Regions from separate parts of the Homo sapiens genome. Here region 2 is linked to region 1. Evidence: fine-mapped expression QTL. Tissue or cell type: testis. Region 1 holds a variant in brackets; the other region holds the start of a gene. All regions are shown on one strand. Distances are between the middles of the regions.

What was found. PIP is the estimated chance that this variant, and not a neighbour inherited with it, causes the effect.
Region 2: it holds the start of UQCRC2, and the variant in region 1 is fine-mapped to the expression of UQCRC2 in testis (GTEx, PIP above 0.99). The same link has a PIP of 0.9 or more in nucleus accumbens.

Annotation. Positions count from the first base shown.
Region 1 is chr16:22,187,226-22,195,331 of GRCh38, forward strand. SDR42E2 (short chain dehydrogenase/reductase family 42E, member 2) reads left to right here. Exons shown (of 13, transcript NM_001394319.2): 13 at 2,914-4,526. The coding sequence ends at 3,168. LOC124903666 (a long non-coding RNA gene) reads right to left here and starts at 787. Exons shown (of 2, transcript XR_007065028.1): 1 at 746-787. RefSeq lists silencers at 2,912-3,001, 3,092-3,141, 3,282-3,381 and enhancers at 3,087-3,586, 3,842-3,921, 4,422-4,481, 8,073-8,106. The variant G/A (reference allele first, on the strand shown) is at 3,138.
Region 2 is chr16:21,949,532-21,957,623 of GRCh38, forward strand. UQCRC2 (ubiquinol-cytochrome c reductase core protein 2) reads left to right here and starts at 3,830. Exons shown (of 14, transcript NM_003366.4): 1 at 3,830-3,925; 2 at 7,704-7,787; 3 at 7,886-8,035. The coding sequence starts at 3,893. It also overlaps a transcript of PDZD9 not described here. RefSeq lists enhancers at 3,163-3,622, 3,711-4,428, 3,943-4,112, 4,123-4,172.

The DNA.
Region 1 (8,106 bases):
AGTATATATTAAGTACCTACTACATACAGAATATAATTATTTTTATGAGACAGGGTCTCACTATATTGTCCAGGCTGGTTTCAAACTCCTGAGCTCAAGAGATCCTCTTGGCCAGGTGTGGTGGCTCGCACCTATAATCCCAGTGCTTTGGGAGGCTGAGACAGGAGGATCACTTGAGGCCAGGAGTTTGAGACCAGCCTGGGCAACATAGCAAGACCTCATCTCTACAAAAAATTTTAAAATTAGCCAGGCAAGGTGGTGCATGCCTTTAGTCCCAGCTCAGGTGGGGGATTACTTGAGCCCAGGAGTTCAAGGCTGCAGATTGCACCACTGTACTCCAGCCTAGGCAACAGATGGAGATCCTGCCCCTAAAAACCAAAAAAAAAAAAAAAGATTCTCCCCCCTCAGCCTTCTAAATAGCTGAGATTACAGGCATGCACCACCATGCCTGGCTCAGAATACTATTCTCATAATAATGATGATGCAGGTTTATATTTGCTTAGTTAAAAGAGAGGATGTTTTCATCACAGATTGTAAATAGCAAAGTAATCGGTGGTATTTGAGGTTATTTGCAAAAATCCTTCCAGTCCAGTCGGGCACGGTGGCTCACACTTGTTCCCAGCACTTTGGGAGGCTGAGGCGGGTGGATAACCTGAGGTCAGGAGTTTGAGACCAGCCTGGCCAACGCAGTGAAATCCTGTCTCTACTAAAAATACAAAAATTAGCTGGGTGTGGTGGCACATACCTGTAGTCCCAGCTACTCGGGATGCTGAGGCAGAAGAGTCGCTTGAACCTGGAAGGTGGAGGTTGCAGTGTGCTGAGACCACACCATTGTACTCCAGCCTGGGTGACAGCACAAGACTCCATCTAAAAAAAAAAAAAAAATTACTTCCAGTCCACTCTCGTTTTATTGTCTCTGATGCCCTGCTAAGTTAAAAAGGTCAAAAAAAAATCGTGATCTCCATTTTATGATGAAAAATTGAGCACTAGGAAAATTATTTGTCCAAGGCCACACCATACTGGAATTGGCTTCAGACTCCATGTTCAGTGCTCTTTAACAAGGGGAGTCAGAGGGGGAGAGTGGAGAATGGGCCACAGAAAGAAGTAGTCACCTATGGCTTCTCCTTTGAGCCATCCGGATCAGTGGAGGAGAGAATAAGATGATACTGACAATCTCTTGAGTTGTGACAGTATGCCAGGCACTGTGCTTTATCTCATTTAACTGAGTTGTAGACAACATTGTCCTCTCCATTTAGAGAGGAGGAAATGAGACACACAGTGAAATAACCTGCCCGTGATCACTCACTTAAATGGTAGAGCTGGGATTTGAACCCAGACCTCAGTGATTTCAAGCTTAACCATTAGCTTGTGAAAATGCATCAGGAATCACATCCACATAAAATAGCTGCCAGGGTGCAGCTGAATTGTGGTCAGGCAGGGACTTGGCTCCTCTCCCTCTTGTTTAACTTGGGGATTTCCTTGTTCAGCTCAGGGGCAATGTCCTTAACTGTGGAAGTTCCTTGGCTGTGGCTCGGGTACCCTCTGCTGGTCAATCTGTGACACATCAACCAGCCCTCCAGTTTGACTTTATAGCCTTTTATGCATTTAACATAAATGTTACCAGGCACTGTGCTGAGCAACGGAGGCAAGAAGACATAGTCCTTGCCCTTAGGGAGCTCCTAGTTCAAAGGGGAAGACAGCCCACTAACCAGGCAACTCAACACTGTAATTAGAGCCATTCTTGGGAAAATCGCGAGAAACTCCAGTGCACACAGAAGGGGCGCCTCAGCCAACTCTGAGGAAGTCAGAGAAAGCTTCCCAGAGGTGACATCTAGAGACATCTAGGTGTATTAGGGACCCTGCTTATCTAGCGTAACTCAACTCCTGTGCTCCCCAAAGCCCTGCACTTACTGACTAGGAAAAAAAGGGACAAATACTGGCCTCTCTCCTCACCCCCCATTAAGCATCCAAGACCACAGGTTTGACCCCAGGGGCTGTTTCAATGCCATGGGAGAATCCAGCAGCTGGTGGATTCTTCCCCAGGGTCCGGCTGAGGAAAAAGAGAGGAAGAAATGAGTCAGGTGGGAGAACATCTCCAGGTGCCAGCACAGCAGAGAAGAAATTAGGCTAGAACCTGGCTCCCCTGTGCGACCCCAGGCAAGTCACTCAACCTCTCTGACCTTTTTCCAAGTATGCACAGAACAGATAGTGCTAGTACCACCTGAGAGGATTAAATGAGGTAGGGCATAGAAAGGATTTAGTCCAGGCCAAATGCAGGGTGTGTGTTCCTTAACTGCTGATAGCTATCATTACTACCCTTCAAACCAGTGGGCCCCAAGCCATCTGGCAGCAGGGGAAACACAGCTTAGACCCTGGAGAGCAATCAGTTCTGCATAATCGAATTCCTCTCTTAGGGAAGCTTAGTTAATAAGCGAGGGCATGAAGGCTGCGACTGGGGCCCTCCTGGTCACAGTTGGTCTGGGGTTGGGGGCAGGAAGCCAAGGTCGTTTCCTGCAGATGTTTCTGGCAGGCGTTCACCTTCTCCTAGCGGATGCCTAAGAATGTATCAAGGGCCTCCTGAGTCCCAGCACCGTGCTAGGCCGGGAAGATGAGTGTAGGGGTGAGACCTTTGCTTCTTAGGGACCAAGGAGTTAAATAGGGTGCGAATTCAGCGGGGCTGGAGGGGGCGACGCAAAGGCGGCACCCTCCAATAAAAATGAACATGTAAGGAAGAAAGGAAGACCTCTCTAATGAGGGCATCGCAGGAGCAAGACGCTGCACTCGGGTCCTTTTAAATCACTATGTAATGGAGGGGAAATCCCTGCCCTCTCTTTTCCCTTTCCGTAAACAACGAAGTAGAGGATGTCCTCCTCCCACGAGGCCCGCCCTCGGATGCCCCGCCTGTCCCCGCAGGTGCGCAGCGTGGCCGTGACGCACACCTTCCAGATAGCCAAGGCCCGCGCCCAGCTCGGCTACGCGCCGGATAAGTTTAGGTTCGCCGACGCCGTGGAGCTATACGTGCAGTCCACGACCCGGCGGCCCCGCGGCTCCACGGCGCGGACCCTCCTGCGCCTGCTGCTCAGGCTGCTGCTGTTCCTCGGCTTGCTCGCCCTGGCCCTGCACTTCCTAGGCCTGCA[G/A]CCTCTGCACGCCGCCGTGGAGCGCCTGTGACCGTCCGCCGTCCGCCGCCCGCTAGGGTCGGCCCCGCTGCACCCTCGCCCACGCCCGGCTCCCTGGGCTTGTACCAGCCCCTGCCCCGCCTTCTGGGTTTGAGCGCGCCTCCGCTCCGCCCCTTGAATCCTGGTCACGCCCCCGAGCCGCTCTCCAGACCTAGCCCGGACCGCCGACTTCTGGCCACGCCCCTATCTACTCCCAGACCTTGCCTTGCGCCCTTCCTGTGTTTTGGCCCCGCCCCTGTCCTGTCCCGCCCCGCCCTCCGAAGTGGGCACGCTCCTGCTCCGCCCCCTGAATCCTGGCCACGTCCCTGGTCGGCCCAGACGCGTAGCCCCGAGTCTCTTTCCATGTTTTGACCACGCCCTTGACCCGCCCTTCAAATTGGGCACGCCTTCTTCCCCGCTCACTGATTTCCTGGCCTAGCCCCTGAGCAGACCTCCAGACCTAGCCCCGCCCCCGTTTTATAACCCCGCCCCTGCTTCACGGCTTGGGCACGCCTCTTCCCCGCCCCCTGACTTCAGAGCCTAGTCCTGAGCCGCTCTCCAGGCCTAACCCCGCCTTCATGTCATAGCCACGCCCCTTCCCGCCCTTCCATGTTTGGGCACGCCTTCTGAGTCCTGGTCACGCCTCTGTCCCGCCCCCTGAATCTTTCCTACGTCCATGACCCTCCCTCCAGGCCCTGGCCCTGCCCCTTTTTTCCTCCCTCCGGCCTGTCCGGTTTCTGATATGGGCCAAGGCTCACAGCTTCCTCCGCCTTCTGGACCTTCTCCTAGTCCCTGCCCAGTCCCGGCCCACCCCCAGATTCTCCCTCATTCTGGTTTCGCCCCCTTTCTGGTCCTCCCCGCGCGCTTGAGCCCACCCTTTGGCTTCTCCTTTTGGGTCTGTCCTTGCTCCTGCCTCTGGACCCGGTCCCGCCCTTCTCGCGTGTAATTGAGTCCTGGCCCCGCCCCCTCCCTCTCTGGCTTCACCCCTTTCCAGCTCCGCCTCCCGGGTAGGTTCTCCCCGGAACCAGGCTGCCGCGTCGCTATGGGCTAACGCAGGCTCGGGTGACGTTGGTATGAGTTTGCGCCGTCGGCTGCTGCTCTGTCTGGTAACATTGCATTCGATCCACCCCGACCCAATGTTCTGGGCTTCTCATTCACACAGATCTGTGTGTTGACAGCCAGGGTTTGGGGAAAAACCGAGACTCAAGCTTCTGCCGAGCCCGACTTGGCCTTTTTGGGTTCCTGTCTGAGGATGACAGCATAGTAAGCACAGGTTTTAGTACCAGAAAGAGCATGAAAAATTTAAAAAAAAAAACTCTTAAAATAATTGGATGTCTCGATGAAGTACCAATAAAGCTATAATGGGAAAAATAGAGTTTAGTTGGTTATATTTTATGATTTAGTACTGTTTCTATTTATTAATTAGAGGTAGTGGTAATCACCATAATCTTTAAAGTTTAAGGTCACGAAACTTCTTTATCTAGCCCTGCTCTCCACAGAAACTTCGCCTCCTATCATCTTGGTATCAGTTATCAGTTGTAAGTACCAAGACATCAGTGTGTAAATACAACCATGTATAGATCATAATATGCACACGTGGGACTGGCAGAGAAGAAAAGCACCACAAGCCTGAGGTGGATGGGATCGAAAGGGCTCATCAGAACCAACATGGCCACCGCAGTGTGTGTCCCACTCTGCTGAACAAGGTGAGCAGTTTGGGAAGGAGCTAAAAAAAAATGTATGCTCCTCTCTGCTAGGCTGAATTTTATGTGTGTATATAATTTTTGAAAGAATAATAATCCTATGTCTGTTTAATGCTTGACAGTGTAAAAGAGCTTTCATCTATGTGATCTTATTTAATTCTTACAGCTACTCTTAAATAGGGTTTATTACTCTCCTTTTATAGATGACGAAAACTGGGGCTTTGTCTCATTCCAAAGAGCAGAGGAGGGTGGGGGTTTCTGCTCTACAGCTGGGGGAATTTGGAGGAGCACCGCCTAAGCCGCCACTGGCCTAAACACAACACGTGGTAACTTCTACTCTTCTACACTCTGGCCATGCCAAGGCTTGCGGTTGAACTCTGGTCTCGTTCTCTCAGAGCCGCAAACCTCGGACCATTTGAAGCTGGCGGTCCTGGGGCTTCCTTTCCTCTCGATAACATGTTTACATCCAAACTCACTTCCTTCCTCTCTTTCTTCTCCCTGCTAATCCTGGGAAATCTGTTCTTCGAGCAGGAAAAACAATCTCACACTGCTCACGTTATTTTCTAGATCTTTTGACTAGTGCCAAACCTACTTTTGAAAATCCAAAAGCCAAGAATCAATTTATTTGTTTTCTGGATTTCTCCAACTCATCTATTTCCTAACACTCTGGAAGCAGAATGTGTAAACCCTGGGCATGGGGACAACATGGATCGCTATGTCAAAAAAGCTTTTTTCCTTTCAAGCATCTTTATCCAATGGAAAAGGAGGTGGCATCCCCACCCAACAGGAAAACTGAATCACTGTAAGAATTTTTGAGACTGCCCAGACCACTAGCCTCCATGAGGTTCTGAAAGGGCAAGTAGGAGGTTCTAGCTTACTTGGAGACGCTAAAGAGAAGCATCGCAAATGCAGAAAACAGAATTGTCACAGTGGGCAGCCCAAGGTGACATAGTCGATCTGAAGGGATTATCAAGACAAACTCATAGGCTTTCCATTATGGGTGCTGAAGCTATTCCCAGTTGTAAACCCAATGCCAGGCATCTAAAACATCCTCAAGTCTCTCTCATCTTGAAAATATCTTCCCAGCAGGGCACAGTGGCTCACACCTGTAATCCCAACATTTTGGGAGGCTAAGGCTGGAGGATTGCTTGAGGTCGGGAGTTCAAAACCACCCTGGGCGATTTGGTGAGAACCCTGCTTCTACATAAAAAAAAATTTTTTTTAATTAGCCAGGTGTGGTGGCACCCAGGAGGCTGAGGCAAGAGAATCACTTGAGTCCAGGAGTTTGAGTCTGCAGTAAGCTATGATTGCACCACTACACTCCAGCCTGGGCAACAGGGTGAGACCCCATCTTTAAAATTTAAAAAAATCCTCCTTTGATTCCCCCATTTTCCCTCCCACAACTGTTCCTTTTGCTCCTCCTTTTCAAAATCAAATTTTGTGATGAATTGACCATACTTATGTTTCCATTTCTTCTCCTCAACCCATTCCAAAATGGCTTTCAGATCATCAATGATCTTGTCCATAAATCTTAATAGATATTTTTCCGTCTTTATTTTGCCAATTATCTTAGCTGTGTTCAGCATAGTTGACTGCCCCCTCCTTCTTGATCCGCATTTCTTGGTCTCTATGAAACCACACCTGTTTTCCACGTATATTGCTGGCCAGTCCTTTCCCGTCTCTTTCGCATCTCTTTCACTGGCTTTTCTTCCACTGCCCTCCCTTTAAGATGATGTCTCTCGGGTCTCTGTCTTGGCCCCTCTTCTCCCTCTGTGGGATCTTTCTGGATGAGTTCATCCCTTCCCATGGCCTCAGTCTCTAATACCTCCCAAATCTGTATCATTTCCTTGGAGTGCTCTCTTGACCTCCAGAAATCTATGTCCAACCTCCTACTCAACCCCATATCCCACAAGAATCTCCAGCTCAATGAAAATCAAACTGAAGTCATCATCTCCCACAAACCTGCTTTCCATCTATCTTGTGTTCCCTCCCAGGAGAGGAGAGGCACCACCAGCCATCCAATGACCCAAGCCCAAATCCTGGGCGTCACTTTTGACGTGATCCTCTTCTTCTCGACATGCTCATCTGTGGATTCTGTCAAATCTATCTCTAAAATGTCTCCCTGACTCACTCCTTCTGTCCCGCACCCGGCCACTATTGTGGTACAAACCACTGTCCTTTCTCCTAGACAATTGCAATAGGCATTGAATGGGACCTCCTGTCCCTGCTGCCAGCGGGAACTTTCTTTTCTTTCTTTGTTTCTTTGTTTCTTTCTCTTTTTTTTGACACGGAGTTTCACTCAATCGCCCAGACTGGAGTGCAGTGGTGCGATCTCGGCTCACTGCAACCTCCGCCTCCCAGGTTCAAGCAATTCTCCTGTCTCAGCCTCCCAAATAGCTGGGATTACAGGTGCGTACCACCATGCCCAGCTAAATTTTGTATTTTTGGTAGAGACGGGGTTTCACCGTGTTGGCCAGGCTGGTCTCAAACTCCTAACCTCAGGTGACCCACCCGCCTCAGCCTCCCAAAGTGCTGGAATTACAGGTGTGAGCCACCGTGCCCAACCAGTGAACTTTCTAAATTCCAAATTGGAACATGCCACTCTCTAGCTCAAAAGCCTTCCATGGTTTCCCATTGCCCTTGGGAAGGGACCAAGTTCAAAGCCTTAACTCGGCATTCATGGCCCTCTTTGCCTGTCTCTTCGCCTCACCTATTGCCAATACTCCACCTCCACTCTCTGTGCAGCTGCCCTGAATTACCTTCACAGCGTCTCAGCCTTACCAGGCTCTTTAGGAGTTCCCTCTTGGAAATCCCCTCCCACGCCTTCACTTGGCTAATCTCAATTTCAGGCCCCAGCTAAATGTCACTTCCTTGCTTCTCAGGGGCCAGGTTAGCATGCTGTACTGCCTAACACTCCTCACAGGTGTAATTAATTAAAATGACAATGTCTGCAAAGTCGATGGGTTCAAAAACATGCCTGCCTTGTACACCACCACAGCCTCAGGACGAGCACGGTTTCTGGCACATAGTAGGCCCTTCATAAACAGCTCAACAACTGTTTATAAATGAAGGCCCCTAAATCAAGCCTGAAAACCAAGTAAGAGGTGAATCAATGAAGCAGAGACCTCAAGGTTGGCACCCCCACATAGGGCCAGACCCCTACTACTCCAGGGTCACCTGACAACAGAGGTTTATGGGGTCCCTGGAGCCCTCTAAAGTACACGGAGCAGGCCAGAAAGGGACCCCCG
Region 2 (8,092 bases), 240 kb before region 1:
AAAATTAGCCAGGCATCATGGCACATGCCTGTAATCTCAGCTACTCAGGAGGCTGAGGTGGGAAAATCTGCTTGAAACCAGGAGGTGGAGGTTGTAGTGAGCTCAGATCATGCCATTCCACTCCAGCCTGGGCAACAAGAGTGAAACTCTCCAAAAAAAAAAAAAAAAAAAAAAAAAAGAGGGAGGAGGGAGGGAGGAAGGGAGGGAGAGAGAGAAACAGAGAAAGAGAGACAGAGAGAGAGAGAGAAAGGAAAGGAAGAAAAGGAAAGGAAGGAAGGAAGACAGCTATCAATTTACATTGCCAGGGTGAAATTCAACAAAACTGTTTTAGGGTAAAGATCCTCAGATCCACATGGAATTGCCCTGTGGGCAAATTGTAAGGTAAGTTATGTAGCTTTTTATCCTTATAGCTATCTTATTTAGGAATAAAACGGGAGGCAGGTTTGTCTGACATCATTCCCAGCTTGAATTTTCCCTTTGGCTTAGTGATTTGGAGGCCCTGAGATTTTTTTTCCTTTCACACTTCCTAACTCATTTTATCTATGACAGAAAAATGCATGAATGGGGGGAATGAAAGTGAAAGTTAAAGCCAGTATCACTCTGGAACATAAATGCACAAATCCTAAACAAATAAGTAGCAAATTAGGTCTAGCAATATATTAAAAGAATAAAACATCCAGACCAAGTTGGGTTTATAACAGGAATGAAAGGTTTATTTATAATTTGAATCAATCAATATAACTTAACACAGAATAAGACCAATCTGTTCACCTCAATACATGGAAAAAGTATATGTGACCAAAAACAATAATTATAGAATATTAGAAATTGATATGAACTTTTTTTTCCCCCCCGAGACAGAGTCTCGCTGTGTCGCCTAGGCTGGAGTACAATGGCAGTGATCTCGGCTCACTGCAACTTCCGCCTCCCAGGTTCAAGCAATTCTCCCTGCCTCAGCCTCCCGAGTATCTAAGATTTCAGTCAACTGCCACCATGCCCGGCTAATTTTTGTATTTTTTTTTCAGTAGAGACAGGGTTTTGCCACGTTGGCCAGGCTGGTCTTGAACTCCTGACCTCAGGTGATCCACCCACCTTGGCCTCCCATAGTGCTGGGATTACAGGCATGAGCCACTGTGCCTGGCCCAGGGAATATTTCATCAGAGATAATACCTGACAGGGTAGGATTCTGAAAGGAATGGGGAAGGAAATGCCAACATCGAAATTATGCATTGGGGAAGCCATGATTAATGCCTCTGGCCCTAAGATGGCAAGGTAATGTTGTTCCCAAGTATAAACCCACATCACCTTCCTCTGGTGTGTTTTACTCCTACTGTTGCCTGCTTTCTCTTTACATTCTCCCACCCCATACTCACCGCGAGCGCTCAGGCTAGGTAGTTAGGCTCCATAGAGTCAAATTGGACCCCACATTAACGAAACTAACAATTCGAGCTTTCCAGCAATGAACTCATCTGCTCTTCCATGTCTACTCTTTTCCTGTCTGCTGGTTTCCTCTCCCAGGGCTTTCAGTGTGTTCTACGCAGAAACCAGTTCAAGGACTGGGTTTTCTTCTGCAATAAAATGCTGGAGTTGTGGCAGAGACCTCCACAGTGAGAACAGCCACGGAGTTGGCTAGGAGGTGACATGATGTGGAAGTGGTGGATGTGTCCACAAGATGGCACTCCTAATTTGTAGCTTAATGCTTAATAGGACATTTTGCAATTGACAAACTTGGGATTTTATGATTTATGTAGCTGATATCATGAATTATGTTTCAAATCCTGCCACATTTTGAACAGAATTTATTTTTGCCCCTTTCTGATATTGGGTCATAACCTAAGAATGAGAGGACATTATAAGCAGGTGTGGGTGTGTGTGTGTGTGTGTGTGTGTGTGCACTTGAGTGTGGAGACTTTTGTGTTCCTCCTACCTGACCTGAACTGTTGAATGATGAAGTTACAATGATTGGACTCAGGGGTGCAGCTAGCTAACTTGGGAATTGGGGTTTTGAAGTACTGGAGACAGCTTTGTATGCCATGTTAATGAATTTGAATTTTATCCTGAAAAACGTGGCTGTCGTTGAAGAATTTTAAGCAGGCAGGTGGCTTGATCAGAGCACTGCTTCCCAGATTTCACTCAATGGTACCTGTATAACACATTCATGATTTTTGCTGTATCTCCGTATCATCAAGTTACTTAACGTTTTTACACCAACTTTTATTATTTTATAAATGTACTTAAAGAGGAAATTCACTACTAGCATTGCTTGCCATAATCAAAATAAATATATTATTAAAATGGAACAGTGCTAAATAAGGTGTACACATGGACATAGAGTGTGGAATGACAGACAATGGAGACTCCGAAAGGTGGAGGGGTGGGAGAGAGGTGAACGATGAGAAAGTACTTAATGGGTACCATGTACATTATTCGGGTGATGGGTACACTAAAAGCCCAGACTTCACCATTACTGCAATATATCCATATAACATAACTGTACTTGCGCCCCTTAAATTTATACAAATTTTTAAAAGGAAAAAATGGAAGTGTTCATCTATGTACCAACTTAAAATCATCTCACGCACCACTAGTGTTAAATCTACCACATGTGGGGAAACTGTGTGGTATGAATTGGGTTGAGGGCGTCCCCAGCAGGCACAGAAATTGGGTTGGTGCCAGGTTCTTAATGCCCAGATCTTAATTAGAGAGCCCAAGTCCGTTGTAGGCCTGGAGCAATTCAGACACAAGGCAAAAAGAAAGTACATTTGCCTATGCCTTGTAACGTCTACACCACCAGCCTTTCTGAAACTATTGTGCATACGAAGTCATCCCAGGATCTTGTAAAAACACCGATTCGGATCCAATATGGGACCTGGAGTTCATACATTTCTAATCAACTCCTAAATGATATTGATGCTGATACTGTCGGTTTCCCAACCAAGCAACGTAGCAAGGTACGAAACTCTAAAGTCCCTAAAGGGCAGGGACCACGCCTCTCGCGTTGGCATAGTGCCTAGCTCAAGGCACTTTCTGGGTTAACACTCGCTGAGGACCGGAGTGAACGCCCCCGCCCCAAGTCGTCACGTGACTGACTTTCTCCAACTGCCGGTTTCGGCTCACATAACACACCTACTATCCAAAACATTTCTATTTTCCTAACACAAAAACTATAGCTAAGTTTTTATATTCTATGTAGCCCCAGCCTAGGACGTAAATTCCACGAGACCAAAAGCCTTGTGATGATTCCCCGAGGTTGCTGACCCTCCCGGTGTGTCCCGGGCCTGCTCTGGGGGACACAGCGGCGAATACGTTGAACGAGGCCCCTGTTTCACGGAGCTAAAGATCCAGTAAGGACTTCACCCAGCGAGAGGCAACTACGCCGGGCTTCGATACCCAATACCTCTGCAGAAAGGTGGAGTGGCAGGAATCTCCTGAAGCCTCCAACGTCCAGGAACGCGGAAACCCAGGGCCTCCAGTGCAGGTGTCATCCCGGAGGGCGCATGCGGAGTCCCAAGAGAGGCGCGTCCCATTGGACAATGCTGAGCGGAAGAGCCCAAGATAGCGGGGGGAGTTGTGACAGGCTGCTGCAGACGTACTTAGAAAAGGGGTGCATACTGGATATTCAGGCTAGGAGAAGAACGCAAAAAGCAGTGACGTACATTATTCTCTGCATATATTTACTTGGGAAATTGTGCGTCTCCCTATTCTGAGTCTTGGAGGAATTGGACTGGTCCAACCTTATAAAGAGAGCAGTAGAGCGCGGCAGTATAGAGAGTACCTCACGAAGGGGACGTGGGAAAGTGTTAGCGGGGAACGCTGGGAAACTCCCGGCCTCCGCCACCATCTTGCTTTCCTTTAATCCGGCAGTGACCGTGTGTCAGAACAATCTTGAATCATGAAGCTACTAACCAGAGCCGGCTCTTTCTCGGTGAGCTCAGGTGGCGGGTTTGGGAAAGGGCTGGGGAGCAGTGTGTCGACAAGGTGATACGAGGCGGAGGTGTCTGGTCTGGGGTCTGGGCCTTGGGATTCGGTCTGCCCTTCAGCTGAACCCTGCGGGCCAAGTGGGCTGCAGACTGGGTCAGGCTTTGGAGGCCCAGCTCATGCTGTGAGCACAAGAGACCTAACACCGGGAAACCTGAAGAGAGGGGCAGGACGTGAGAGCGGAGTTGAAGCGAGTCCTTGGAGAGACTTCTGAAGGTCACTCCGGTACTCAAGTGCTGGAGAAAGAGACCGTGAAACCCAGGGGGAGCGGGAGGACGGCGCACTTAGCCCCCCACCTTCACTTTATCCGCTGCAGCCTCTGCTCCTTGGTTTATCACGGAGCGTCAGTTTCCCCAGCGAATAAAAGTATAAGAAAGGAGCTAATGCAGATAGAACACTTATTACAGTACCTGGAACTTCATTGTTAAATACTATGGTGTCTTAGTAGTCTAACGTTGCTTTTCTTGATCGTATGTTAGACGGTTCCTCCAAGACGTCTCTGTTTGTCCTCAAAAGCTCCTTAATTAAGTTTCCCCTTCAAGCCTAAATTAAACATAGCTGTCACTTGGGGAAAACTCACACATCAGGGTTATATCACTGTGGGACAGTGGTTATTAAGAGGGGTAAGGGGGAACACTTAAAAAATCATAGCGAGGGACAGAATGCCCCCAGGGAACCGGTGGCGATGTTTGGAGACATATTTAGTTGCAACAACTTGTAAGGAGGGTGCTATTGGCATGGAGAGGCCAGGGATGCTGCTAAACTTCGCCTTACAGCAAAGAATTATCTAGCCCCAAGTGCCAGTAGTAGTACCTGTGTTGAGAAACCCCCCTAGATGGAGATGCAGAAGACCAGACCTGGGCATGGAATGTTCTTATGCTTTATGTTTACATAAATGTGCTGTGGGCTATATCGATTTAGGCTGTAATTGCATTAACCTTCCAGGTATACCTAGACACACCAGTGATTACCCTTGGAGGGAAGCACGGTTAGATTGGCAAAAGACCCCAACATTTCCTTCTCCATTCTATTTTGCAACAGAAAAAGCTCAGAGAAAACAGTTGGAGAGGCCCAAAGTAAACAAATTGCAGTAAACTTGAAAGCAATTATTTATGTGTCTAATTTTAGCACTTTATATAGGAGAATAAACTTAGATATATCTTGTTATTAGAACAAAATAATTTAGAAGATTGCATGACAGTTACTAGGATAATTTGCTGATTTGAATGGGACGATTAAGAAGCACATTACCGGCGGAGCGCGATGGCTCACACCTGTAATCCTAGCACTTTGGGAGTCAGAGGCAGGCGGATCACTTGAGATGAGGAGTTCGAAACCAGTCTGGCCATCATGGTGAAACCCCGTCTCTACTAAAAATACAAAAAAAAAAAAAATAGCCGGGCGTGGTGGTGGTGGGCGCCTCTAATCCCAGCTACTCAGGAGGCTGAGGCAGGAGAATCTCTTGAACCCAGGAGGCGGAGGTTGCAGTGAGCCGAGATCGCACCGCTGCACTCCAGCCTAGACGACAGAGCGAGACTCCGTCTCAAAAAAAAAAAAAAAAAAAAATTACCAACAAAGAGTTACTATTTGGGCACATTTGGTTGGAAAACACCTAAAATCTCACTTGGTAACGGAATTATAGATTATTCATATTTGAATTGCTATGCCCATATATCTTAAAAGTTTACTTTTTGGAAAATTATAGGCCAAAATTACAAAGAAGGTTAACTATACCATACCCAGCAAACTAAATTGATGACGATAAAGTAAAGCTAATTGTAATTCATAACTGAAAAGCAGTACTAAAAGCAAGTGATAACCAGCAGCCAACCTAGTACAGCACTAATGATGTACAACAAACAGCCTTCTGGACAGCACAGAGTGGAGGCATTGCAGACTGTGCAGGGATGTCCGGGAAACTCCAGTGAGGAGGTGTTCATTGGGTCTTGGGAGCACCAAATTTTATTCACTCATCATCTCCTCTAATAACCTCATGAACTTTAGTCATAATCAGAATGATTTGTATGGCATTGTATAACATTTGCCAAAACAAACTGAATAAAATGAATGCATTTTGGGTCCATTATCTAATATTTAATGGGACCCTTTCACCCTACCAGTAACTGCATTTTATATATTGAGAATCTGATGTGGATGAAGCCATTATTAATCTCAGGATGACATACATGTCATAAATGTTTTATTTAGTCAAAAAAACTAAGACCTTTGGTTGTGTGGTCTTAATACAGCACACAAGAGTGAAGATACAATGGAAAATATTGAGGGCTTGGAGGAAGTTGGTATATACTTTGTCTTTTTCTTTTTTTTTTCTTGAGACGGAGTTTTGCTCTTGTTGCCCAGGCTAGACTGCAATGGCACAATCTCGGCTCACTGCAACCTCCGCCTCCCGGATTCAAGTGATTCTCCTGCCTCAGCCTCCCCAGTAGCTGGGATTACAGGCATGCATCACCACGCCCCGCTTATTTTGTGTTTTTATTAGAGATGGGGTTTCTCCATGTTTGTCAGGCTAGTCTCGAGCTCCTGACCTCAGGTGATCCGCCCACCTTGGCCTCCCAAAGTGCTGGGATTACAGGCGTGAGCCACCGCACCCGGCTAGTTTGTCTTTTTTAAAGGTTACTAAGATGATTAAGGAGATGAAACCATTTCAATTGGAAATTAGACTGAACGGATGACATTCATTGGGCAGATAAAAGAAGCAAGAAGCTGAAACCTATAAAAGGTTGTGGACACAGGCCAGGTGTGGTGGCTCCCACCTGTAATTCTAGCACTTTGTGAGGCCGAGGCGGGTGGATTGCCTGAGCTCAGGAGTTTGAGACCAGCCTGAGCTATGGGGTGAAACGCCATCTCTACTAAAATACAAAAAATTAGCCAGGCGTGGCAGCATGTACCTGTAATCCCAGCTACTTGGGAGGCTGAGACAGGAGAATCGCTTGAATCCAGGAGGCAGACATTGCAATGACCCGAGATCGCACTGTTGCACTCCAGCGTGGGACACAGAGCACGACTCCAACTCAACAAAAAAGGTTGTGGATGGGGTGATCTGACACTTTTTCAAAAAATGCCAAAGCTTTAGAACTACACAGAACCATGAAACTTTTATAAGGTAACTGAAAGATAAGAAAATACAGTGATTCTTTACATCATTTAAAAAATAAGCATCAAGAACTCTATAAATCACTAATAAATAGAGGTTTAAGAATGGCTTGGGTAAACTGGTGGGTTAGTAAGTCCATAATAAGTTATGCAGCTAGGCGGGGTGCAGTGGCTCACGCCTGTAATTCCAACACTTTGGGAGACCAAGGTGGGCAGATCACTTAAGATCAGGAGTTCAAGACCAGCTTGGCCAACACAGTGAAACCCCATCTCTACTAAAAAATACAAAACAAAAACTAGCTGGACATGGTGGCACGCACCTGTAATTCCAGCTATTTGGGAGGCTAAGGCAGGAGAATGGCTTGAACCCAGGAGGTAGAGGTTGCAGTGAGCTGAGATTGCGCCACTGCACTCCAGCCTGAGCGACAGAGAGACACTCTGTCTCAAAAAAAAAAAAAAAATGTTATGCAGGTAAATCCTCCCATGGAGGTGGTTATTGCTCCTTCCACCCCCGAACACCCTCTGTCGCTTGGGTACCCTAAGATACCATGCTTTTATATAAAGCACTGTTCTTGTGAGAAATACGTGTAACCTGTGTTTTTTATGTTTAGAGATTTTATTCCCTCAAAGTTGCCCCCAAAGTTAAAGCCACAGCTGCGCCTGCAGGAGCACCGCCACAACCTCAGGACCTTGAGGTTAGTCCCACTAACTTGCTCGCTGGAAGCTATACATGCCTTACTCTCCTTGGTAATACGAAGACATTCATTATATCTCTACTTTATTTTAAATACAGTTTACCAAGTTACCAAATGGCTTGGTGATTGCTTCTTTGGAAAACTATTCTCCTGTATCAAGAATTGGTTTGTTCATTAAAGCAGGCAGTAGATATGAGGACTTCAGCAATTTAGGAACCACCCATTTGCTGCGTCTTACATCCAGTCTGGTGAGTATCTTCACTTCCTCAAGTGTTTGGAAATGCTGTGGTATCTTGGTCCTGTGA